Linked DNA regions of Homo sapiens: region 2 is linked to region 1. The links come from fine-mapping of genetic effects on gene expression. A gene starts in region 1. The other region holds a variant in brackets. All regions are shown on one strand. Distances are from middle to middle. Region 1 holds the start of CDKL5 (cyclin dependent kinase like 5). Region 2 overlaps PPEF1 (protein phosphatase with EF-hand domain 1).

Region 1 (5,380 bases):
CAATCACAAACCCCTAAATCATGAATAAATTTTAAGACTGAGCCAGGAAAAAAGGAATTACTCTCTGGACAAAGAATTCTATTTCAAATTTAAAAAAAATATATCGGATTTTGATTTTAAAAAATTTAGGCTTAGGAAATATGCTAAACAACAAAACTGGAATACTCAACTGTTTGATATATATACATCTAGCAAATTAATCGCTGCATTGACTATGTTAAAAAGGCAAGACAATTCAAAGAGATTTGATACCCTCTCCAATTGAGGAACCCCCAACTACTCTGAAATGGCAGATAATATCTAACACTCTTGGAATGGTTAACTTTATTTAGTATGCCTCTTTTGTAGTTCTATTATTTAATAGAGCCAAACGGAATTTTTCCCTAATTAGGTTTCCTTGTACTTGTGAAATGCTCAGCATACAGTGCTGGCAGCATTAGCTTCTCTCTTCTGGCTCCTTCCCCCCTCAACCACCCTCACCTCCCCCCCAACCCCCGCCCCGAAAAAAAGATTTCCTTCCCAAATGTTCTCTTCTCTGCATTTGTCAACAGAAACACCTACTGGTGGTGTCAAACTGCTAAGACTGCTGCAGGCTTCCTTATTCCTGGTTTCAGTGTCAACGCCAAAAATTCTCAATCCTAAAATAGTACTTTTAATAAAAAGAAATTAGAAGTCTTGCTAGGTACTCAACCTATCATATTCTCGAAAAGCAGCACGCCTTTTTTAAAAATCTATTATTAATGGACCCTAATTGGATTGTTAATCATAAGATCATACTATCACCTTCAACACTAACATACAGGAACAAGTAAATATAGCCTCTTCACATTTTGTGAACAAAACATTTTAAAACACTTGAAGGAAATAAAAACAAATTTACATCTAAGTGTCACTCACATGTAATTCCGAATAGCCTCGGTGAAGATGTCTTTTTTGTAACCCTACAGCAAGAAAGAAACAAGCTGGAAATGTTCCAGCAGATGTTACCTAAAACGATAATCCTGTTCTATACACATCTCTGTCTCCTGTTTCTGACAAACGCTCTCAGACAAATTAATTTGTGTAATCTTTTACATTAACTATATAACCATTACGTTCAAACAAACCTAATTCAGATGCACAGAAAGAAATCATTCGGTGTCAACAATACTTTCTAAAATCAGCTTAAATTCCAGCCAATTAAAATAGATTGTGCTAACAGAATACTGATCTGCAACTACTTAAATATCACAGCACCCGTCTAATCTCACTGTAGAGATACTAAGGTCAGGCTTTTCTTATTCAGGCATCTGTTCTTTAACACTCAAATGAAGCGAAAAACAAAACCCTCAAGGAAGATCTGCCTTTACACTGAAATATGTTCAGGTTATTTTTTTCCCCAACGTGGGCACAAAACGTGTCAATGCAAGGAGGACCTGTTCGTTCTGGGAGACGGTTCCAAATCCCAGAATCCGATTTCTATGAGGGTCCAAAAGGTATGAAGGTCTGAGAAGGGGCCATTCTTCTTCCCCGCACTATGCCAGTCGTGAACTTCACAGCATCGCCTGAAACTTGTCCGGGGGAGGTTGCGGAGCCGCGGGGCCGGCGCCCGGTCGCTAGCCCACCCTCGCGGGCAGCCAAGGTCAGAAGGGCCCGGGCCGCGACTGACGGCCCCTGGCGAGTCTCGGGCTCCCTCCGAACTCGGGCAGGGGGCTGGGGCGCGCAGGCCCCTCCTCGGCGCCGGCGGGAAGGGGCTTACCTCGCCGCAAGCCCCGGGGAGCTCGTGCCGCGGGAGCGGCGGGGCGGGGACGCCGCAGACCCGCCGCTGAGGGGAACCCCGCGGGGCGGGCTCGACCCGCCGCCCCTCTTTCACACCCTTTCGCCTCCCCACACCCCAAAAGACAGCCCCAGCCCCTCGGGGGAAGCCCTTCCAGAGGCGCAGGGGAGCGCTGAGGAGGGGCTACTCCGGGCTGGGACGTCCTCACCGCGTCGCCCCGTTCCGGGGGAACCGGCGCCCCCGCCCCTTCTCTTGTCCGCCCGGGGGGACTGGGTGGGTCTCCACTCTCAGGAGAAGCTGGGTGGACGCGGGGCCGATGTAAGGGTAAGAAGGCTTGGCGGGCGGGTGGCGGCGCGACTACTCACCCCGCCGAGTCCCCCACTTCTAGCAGGGGACCCCACAGCTCCTGAGGACGCCGTCGCCGCTTTACCTTCCCCAGCGGCAGAGACAACTAATCGAAACCTCCGGCCCCGCCCTCTAGCAGAAGCGAACGCGCAGCCTATTTTGCTAACTGCCCCGCCCCAGCCGGCCCGTTCGGACCAATGGGAAAGCACCTCAGGTTTTGCCCGATCCCGCCTTTACCCCGCCCCCTTCTGGTAGGAGCCAATGAGGAGGAAGCGCTTGTCCTGGGGTTCGGGCTCGCGCCGCTCGTGCTCGAGTCTCCGAAGCCGAAGAACGCTGGTTCCTTATACAAGCTCGCCTGCGCGCTCACGCGCGCGCCGCGCCTCCTGGCACGCCAGGTTTGGTTGCCCCGCCAAGCCCTAGCAACCTGGGCTGGAGAGGCTGAGAGGGGCGGGGCCCGAGCCTGGAGTCGACGCCGGGGGGTAGAGCGGGGAAGCAGGGAGAGGGTCGACGGTGGTGGGGTGGGGAGATCGTGACTGAGAAAGGGGTGGCTGCGGGGGTAGGAGGTGGCGAGGAGGCCCCGGAATCCGCCTGTCACTGCGGAAAAAAGAGGGAATCCTGCCTGCAGCGCAGCTACCCTGCCCTCCCTCCGGAGGGACCCGTGCCGGGGGCTGGGGTGGGGGAAGTCGGAGAAGAGGGGGAGAACATACTCGGGGCGGGAGCTGAGAAATACAGGATGGAGGATGGTTTATCTCTGTTGTTGGTAAAAATGATATCGAAGTCCATTGCTGCTGCTGCCCAACTGTTGCCGCTGCGTGTGCACACACACACGCACATATGCACACACACAACACACACTCACACGTACACTCATCCAGCAGCTTGCGGTCCCTTGGGTGAGTTAGGCGCAAAGACCTAGCAGCCTGAGGATTCCTTACACAGCAGCTGGGCGCGTGCAAAGAGCTGTTGCAGCAGTAGCAGCAGCAGCAGCAGCAACGACCCACACCTCCGCTTCGGTCCGATGCTCTGCCACACAAGATCCCCCAGCTGGCTTGAAAGCAATGAAGTCATCGCCCAACCAGTACAAATGTAAAGATCTTAATACCCACCATGGATCGGGTTTCCAAGGAGGATGAAGAGGTGATGAAATTGAAGGAGATAACATTTCCAATGCTACTTTTAGAAAATAAAGAAAAAAAATTTTTTTAAAAAGACATTGGGGACAAATCTATGGAAAGCTGCATAATTATTTTCGCTTTAACAAGCAAAGGAGAAAAATAGGGTCTCTTCTGGTTAGGAAAAGCACGGAAAATAGGCAGTGTATGAGGTCATAGCTGCCACCAAATTAGAAAGATGCAGTACTGTAATAGGAAATAGATATTTGGGATAAAATCCACTTAATCTATTCCTGTAGTGAATCTGGTAACAATATGTAGCAGCATGCTCAGTTTGGCCACTTGATACCAAGCCAATAGGATTTTCTTTTTCATAACGGTGAATATTTGATGAGGAAATGAAAGTGGAAGCATATTAGAAAATTTTACAGGTAGGAGCAATGAATTAGCAAAGAGGGAAAATGGAGTCAGAGGCAACAACAGAGGGCTTCGCAGAGTCTCCTGCCTCCTCCAGATGCAAAGTAACAGTGCTGTGACCTCTAGCTTCACCCACGTGGATCCAGAACTCCTGGGGCAATCACTCCATTTTCATCCCTGTATATCAGAGCCTTTGTACTAGGAATTTCAGCAGCATTACCTTTGACTCAAATGAATAATTTTTTAAAATTTTATTTAGACCTGGTGAACCGGAAGTAACAAATTAATTATCCGTATAGATTGAGAAGATGGAGAAAAAACAATAACTGAACATCTGTTAATATAGGTCCAATTTAGTATTAAGTAGTAATATTAGATGCCTTATAATGTGCCATCCCATATACACAAATATGACCTTCTGCTTAGGGACATTTGCTTTGATCTGGTTTTAAGTAGTGGTAAAGGATTTCTTGCAGTCACTTGCAGTTTAGTTAATTCGTCTTTTGGTCAAAAACTAACCTTTCTAGAAAGTTAGTAAAAGTTTAAAAAGTACCATGCGCCGGGAGCAGTGGCTCACGCCTGTAATCCCAGCACTTTGGGAGGCCAAGGCAGGTGGATCACCTGAGGTCAGAAGTTCGAGACCAGCCTGGCCAACATGGTGAAACCCCATCTCTACTAAAAATAGAAAAAAATTAGCCGGGAGTGGTGGCGTGCACCTGTAATCCCACCTACTCAGGAGGCTGAGGCAGGAGAATTGCTTGAACCCAGGAGGTCAAGGTTGCAGTGAACCGAGATGGTACCACTGCACTCCAGCCTGGGCTAGAGTAAGACTCTGTCTCCAAAAAAAAAAGTACCATGCTGCCATTTAACTGAGCACTTATGTAGAAAGAACACTAATACTAGCCAGTGAATGGATACCTGCTCTGTGCCAAGAACTTCACATAGATTTAGGGTTGCCAGATAAAATACAAGATGCCCCGTTAAATTTGAATTTCAGATAAACAACGAATAATTTTTAGTATAAATGTGTATTTTTATCCTGGATACATGTGGAACAAGGCTAGAAAACTAAATAAGGTTCTAACCATTGCCAAAAAAATTACGAAATGCCCTTCTAGGTCTAGACCTTGTAATGCAATCAGGATCTGGGAGAAAAGCTTAAGAACCAAATTAATGTATAAATTTGTAGTGTTTGTAGAAAGAGGTGAGCATACTTAGACTAAAATATTATTTGCTGTTTATCTCAAATTCAATTTTAACTGAGCATCTTCGATTTTTATTTGCTAAATCTGACACATTATCTCTAATCCTCTCAATTCTCTGCGAAATTCTCACCATTTTCCAGATGAAGAAACAGCTTGAGAACCTCCCCAGCATCGATTTGCTTTTTTGCCCTTCTAATAGAACCCCAACTCTGTTCAGGCATCCACCCGCTCCACACTACCCAGAGTCTCAGTCAATCAATGTGTGGCCTAATTACACTGAAGGAAAGAATTTAACATTTGATGGTTTGAAAGAGGTTTTCCCTGTCTACCCTGCTGGATGAACAAGGAAGCAAGTACGCTTGTTGCCACTGACAGTCATTTCGTGACTAAGAGGAAAACCAGCCCTAGGTCAAAGCCTACACACTAAATAAGGCAGAATCAAAAAATAGAAAAAAAAATTTTTAACTGGGTTCTTGATGACGTCACTGAGTTGTTTCATTAAACAAACTCTGCCCTTTCCTTGCATTTCAGACAGTTTGAGTCAG
Region 2 (5,380 bases), 360 kb before region 1:
GATAAATAACTCAGTTTTTAAGATGGGCAAAGGATCTGAATAGACAATTCTCCAAAGAAGATCTACAAATATCCAATAAACACATGAAAAGATGCTTGACATCATTAGTCATTAGGGAAATGCAAATCAAAACCACAATGAGATTCCATCTCATGCCCTCTGGGATGGCTATAATCAAAATGATAGACAATAACAAGTGTTAGAGAGGATGTGGAGAAATTGGAACGTTCATCCATTGCTACTGGAAATGTAAAATGGTGCAGCCACTTGGGAAAACAGTTTGGGACTTTCTTAAAATGTTAAACTTTTTTAGAATTAGTTTATGACTCAGCAGTTCCACTCCTAGGTACACACTTAAGAGAAATAAAAACATACATGCACAGAAAAACTTGTATGTGATGGCTCATAGAAGGATTATTCATAGTAGCCAAAAAGTGGAAACAACCCAAACGTCCATCAGCTTATGAATGAATAAATACAATGTGTATATCCATATAATGGAATATTATTCAGCAACAAATAGATGTTCAGTACTGATACATGCTACAACATGGATGAGCCTCCAGAACATTGTGCTGAGTGAAAGAAGCCAGACACAAAACATCACATATGTGTCCATTTCTACAACATGTTCAGAATAGGCAAATCTGTAAAGACAGATAGTAGATTGATGGTTGCCTAAGGCTGTTAGGTGGCACAGGGTGGCTACAGAAGGGAATGGGGAATGATGCTAATAGGTATGTAGTTTCTTTTTCAGATGATGAAAACGTTCTAAAATTAGATTGTGGTGCTAGTTGTACAACACTGTGAATATACCAAAAACCATTGAATTATACACTTTAAATGGGTGAGTTACATGGTATGTGAATTATATCTCAATAAAGCTGTTAAAAATATAGTGATGAATTCCAAGAGAATCATGTGGTCTCCTCGTAAAGGTAAAGTCACTTTTTATCTATATATTGTAAGGGACAACATGCACGCTAGTGTCATTGTTGCCACTGCAGTGAACACCCTGATTACCTACCTGTTCCCATTCATGCTCTGTTAAGTGTTCAGTAGGAGATCCATTTGTTTTGATTCTTCCATGTGCATTAAAAGTCACACCTACTTTATTGTGCTTCGAGTCAGTGTCATGGTCTCTGTTTGTTTCCGTTGGTGGTATCAGCACAGATTTCATCTATAAAACAAATTCATGCTTTAGTCCAACCCTCTGCTTATTCTGCCACATACAGAGACTTCAGTCCCAGGTGGGATTCTTTCTATGTTGTGGTGCCACAACCCAATGAAAAACACACGGTCACTTTTTGCATCTCGTCCACCTCCTATATCTCACTCATCCACTGATGTCTGTAAAGTGGGTCTGTTACATTGTTGGTACATTTTCCAATTACAGACATTGCCTATAAAGAAAGAGTTTCTGTGTTTCACTGGAGTTTCTCTATAGGTGTTAAACACATTCTGTGGCATCCACACAGAAAATGGAAGATACCAAGGTAGGGGCAACGAGTCTCCTTATTGAGCCTTTATCTAGCCATAGGATCTTCAGGAGTTCAGAAACACCTCTTAATAGAGTGGCTGCTGTGCATTTTGTTATGCTTTCCAGAAGAAAAGAGAAAAGGTACATCTGTGTCCAAGAAAGTTCTTAAAGGGGACATAGGTTGAAAACTTCAGAAGCCCTTCCAACCTAAATGCATTGTGGTTCTCAGCCTGACTCTGCCAGCCATTGACGATGTTCTCTAATCTTGGCAACAAAACTGCTGCGTTTCTTTGGAAAACAAAACGTCTTTCTGATAGGGCATCAATTACTAGAATCCCTCTTGTTCCCTTACACAAGCAGAGACTGTAATTTTATACTTGTTTCTTTGTAGCACCATGTCTTTAAACAAAACAATATTAAACAATACTTCTGTTATACTGGTGGCCGTGGTTCAGTGATAGACAAATTCTCTGTGGTAGGCACTTAAGTTTCCTTTTTTTTTTTTTTTTTTTTTTTGAGACAGAGTCTTGCTCTGTCCCCCAGGCTGGAGTGCAGTGGCGCGATCTCGGCTCACTGCAAGCTCCGCCTCCCGGGTTCACGCCATTCTCCTGCCTCAGCACTGACTACAGGCGCCCGCCACCACGCCCGGCTAATTTTTTCTATTTTTTAGAAGAGACGGGGTGTCACCGTGTTAGCCAGGATGGTCTTGATCTCCTGACCTCGTGATCCGCCCGCCTTGGCCTCCCAAAGTGCT[C/G]GGATTACAGGCGTGAGCCACTGCACCCGGCCAAGCACTTAGTTTCTTTTACAAACTAGAGTGTGTAGGAAATCTTACCTTTATTTTTCAAAAATGAAATTGAATCTTATTCTGAGGTCCTGTCTCATTGAGCTAGGTAGAAATTCAAGCTCAGCTATTGCTAGCTAGTTCACAGCCTACCTGCCCTGTCTCCTGCCAGCAAATGTTCCCATTAGGGGCAGAGCAGAATATTCTGGGAGGACCCTCTGGACTTGGGTCCACACAACTCACTTCTTTTTCCCTTTTTCTTTCTTTCTTTTTTTTTTTTTTTGTAAAGATGGGGTCTTGCTATGTTACCCAGGCTGGTCTCGAACTTCTGGTCTCAAGTGATCGTCTCACTTCGGCCTCCCAATGTACTGGGACTATAGGCATGAGCCACCGTGCCCAGCTGTACACAACTCATTTCTGATGAGCTCATTGAGCAAGGCCACATGGTCTCTTAAGTATGTGTGGCTCTGAAGTTTTCAAGGCCATTTGGGATCAGGATACTTTGCCCCAGCTCTCCCTAAGGCACTACACGACCATTTTCCCCCAGGGAGTCTAGTAGCCATCTTTCTGCAAATGCCTTGCTGGGGAGTTTGACAAATAATAAACCAGAATCTTAGTTTTAGAAAATCTTCCTTCATTCTTTAATCCCTCTGCATTGACCCCCCTCAACCTGCCCACCTTACAAAATACCTTAAATGAACCTAGAATAGAGGTTGTCATCAAATTCCCCCAACCCTTCCCAACCCCTGTTAACAATGATACCATTACGACCGCAGGTGTAAACCAGGAAGTATGGTCCCTCCTGCCACAGAGGGTTGGAGGGTCCTATGGGATGGGAAAGTGGGGATTATAAAACTGGACTGGAACAATCTACTTTTATGTCTCATCTGATAGAGTTCCAAATGGTTGAACCTATCATTTTCACTACAGTTCAATGATATTTAATACAACAAGTATGTGTTACCAGTTCAACCTCACTCAAGGAAGGGTAGAAGACACAAACAATATACAAGTTGAATTTCTATCTTTAAAGCCAGTCTAAAGAGCAGGTAGAACAGTTATCCCTGAAGGGGGTGAAACTTTAGGTATCCTGAGAAAATGGCTGGCCCACAAACTCTCCCCAGGGTCTGTATTGGTGACTGAAACACAAACCTCAGAACCAAGTATAAGGAAAAAAGAAGAGAGAACTGGAGGAGAAAGCTATATGTTTAGTAGTATATGCCATTTTCTTTTCTTTTCTTTTTTTTTTTTTTTTTTTTGAGATAGTGTTTCACTGTCACCCAGGCTGGAGTGCAGTGGCTTGATCTTGGCTCACTGCAGCCTCTGCCTCCTGGGTTCAAGTGATCCTCCTGCCTCAGCCTCCCAAGTAGCTGGGATTACAGGTGTGCACCACCATGCCCAGCTATTTTTTTGTATTTTAGTAAGGACAGGGTTTCACCTTTTTGGCCAGGCTGGTCTTGAATTCCTACCCTCAAGTGATCCGCCCACCTCAGCCTCCCAAAAGTGCTAGGATTACAGGCGTGAGCCACTGCGCCTGGCCACCATTTTCTTCATATAGGTAATTACATTTAATCCTCCCAAAAATCCAATATGGTAGGTATTTTTATCTTCAGTTTATACGTGTGGAAACCAAGGATTAGAAAACCTCAGTATGTTGCCCAGTCACCCAGGAAGGGGCAGAGGCAGGATGTTAACCTAGTTCTGTCTGTCTAATCTTAGAGCCTCACAGTCTTTACTATGTTAAGGTGGCCCTCAACTTGGGATCTCCACAGAGCTAGTGAGGGACATCCCAGAGGCATCTTCTCAATATCTCAAAAAGCCCTCGATAGAGCTGGCTGCTCAGGCTAACCTCAGGAAAGCAAAAGTGTTCAATCTGGTCAATTGGAAGAGGCTGCCATGACTGATTAGCACTGTAGTCATAGGGCAGGTGGTGATGGAATGTGGCATTCATGCCCTGTGTTCACCAATATTTGACTGACAAAGACATCATGTTCCCTTGTGCTCTTGGTTAGAATCTAATCCACTCATTATGTTAATAATGACTATTATATCTTGATCAAAATGTCTTATTGGCTTGATTACTCACTGATATAATGAGAAAGGTACCTTAAACTTAGAGTGGGCTTAAGTTTTATTGCAACTGGGTTTTGTTGTGTTTGAGACAAGGTCTCTCTCTGTCATGCAGGCTGGAGTGCAGTGGTGCGATCATAGCTCACTGCAATCTCAAACTCCTGGGTTCCAGCAATCCTCATGCTTCAGCCTCCCAAGTAGCTGGGACCACAGGTGTGCACCACCACACCTGGCTAATTTTTTCTTTTTTGTAGAGATGACATCTTGCTATGTTGACCAGACTGGTCTCAAACTCCTGGTCCCAAGTGATCTGCCCACCTCAACCTCCCAAAGTGCTGGAATTACAGGGGTGAGCTACCATGCCTGGCTGCAACTGGGATTTTTTTTTTTTAGAGTAAAAGGAGGTGCTATTAATAATTACAATAGGACAACAGGTGTAAGCCAGGAAGCATCATCATCAGTTGGTGAGGTGGGGAAGGGTGGTATGTAAAATCACCACAGAATCAGGAGAGGGCTGTAAAAAACTTTCTATTCAGTTTTGTCTTAGGTTTACCCTGCTTTGATCTTAAATCCCTCAAGAGATAGTCAGTGACTATTAAGTACTTACTACATCCCAGGTGCTGGGGTTTTATCAATGGACTAGAAAAACAGAGGAAGATAGTAAACAAACAGTACCACAATTTCTTACTTAAATTCGGTAACTGTGATGAAAGATATGTACAAAGGGCTTGACAGTATACAAAAGGGGATCTCATCTGGTCTGGAGGTCAGACTTATTAAACTTTAATTAAAAAGATGGGAGGATACCAGCAACGACATTCTCATTCACATGTGTATAAAGGGTCCAAGAAGTCAAGGTGCCACTGGGGTCACATTTCTGTCTCTATCAGATTAAATTCCAGCTCTAGACCCCACCTGTCCAGGTTGGTTGGAAGTTGATGATCAGTCCTGAGGGGTAACAGTTCAGGTTTCCCACTAGGACCATATAGCATCATCTGGCTCCACTGCTGTTACTGGTCTTCAACCCATGTGGCGCCCCTACACCTCTA

Evidence for each region. PIP is the estimated chance that this variant, and not a neighbour inherited with it, causes the effect. A credible set is the group of variants that fine-mapping cannot tell apart.
Region 2: its variant is the best candidate, but not a certain one, in a credible set for the expression of CDKL5 in spinal cord (GTEx, PIP 0.52).

Annotation. Positions count from the first base shown.
Region 1 is chrX:18,422,437-18,427,816 of GRCh38, reverse strand. It overlaps CDKL5 (cyclin dependent kinase like 5), which reads right to left and starts at 2,209. Exons shown (of 18, transcript NM_001323289.2): 1 at 2,122-2,209. RefSeq lists a silencer at 1,889-1,958 and an enhancer at 2,294-2,588.
Region 2 is chrX:18,784,921-18,790,300 of GRCh38, reverse strand. It overlaps PPEF1 (protein phosphatase with EF-hand domain 1), which reads right to left. Exons shown (of 16, transcript NM_001377996.1): 10 at 1,028-1,180. Among named protein-coding and RNA genes, the nearest start is that of PPEF1, 80 kb to the right of the region's middle. The variant C/G (reference allele first, on the strand shown) is at 2,235.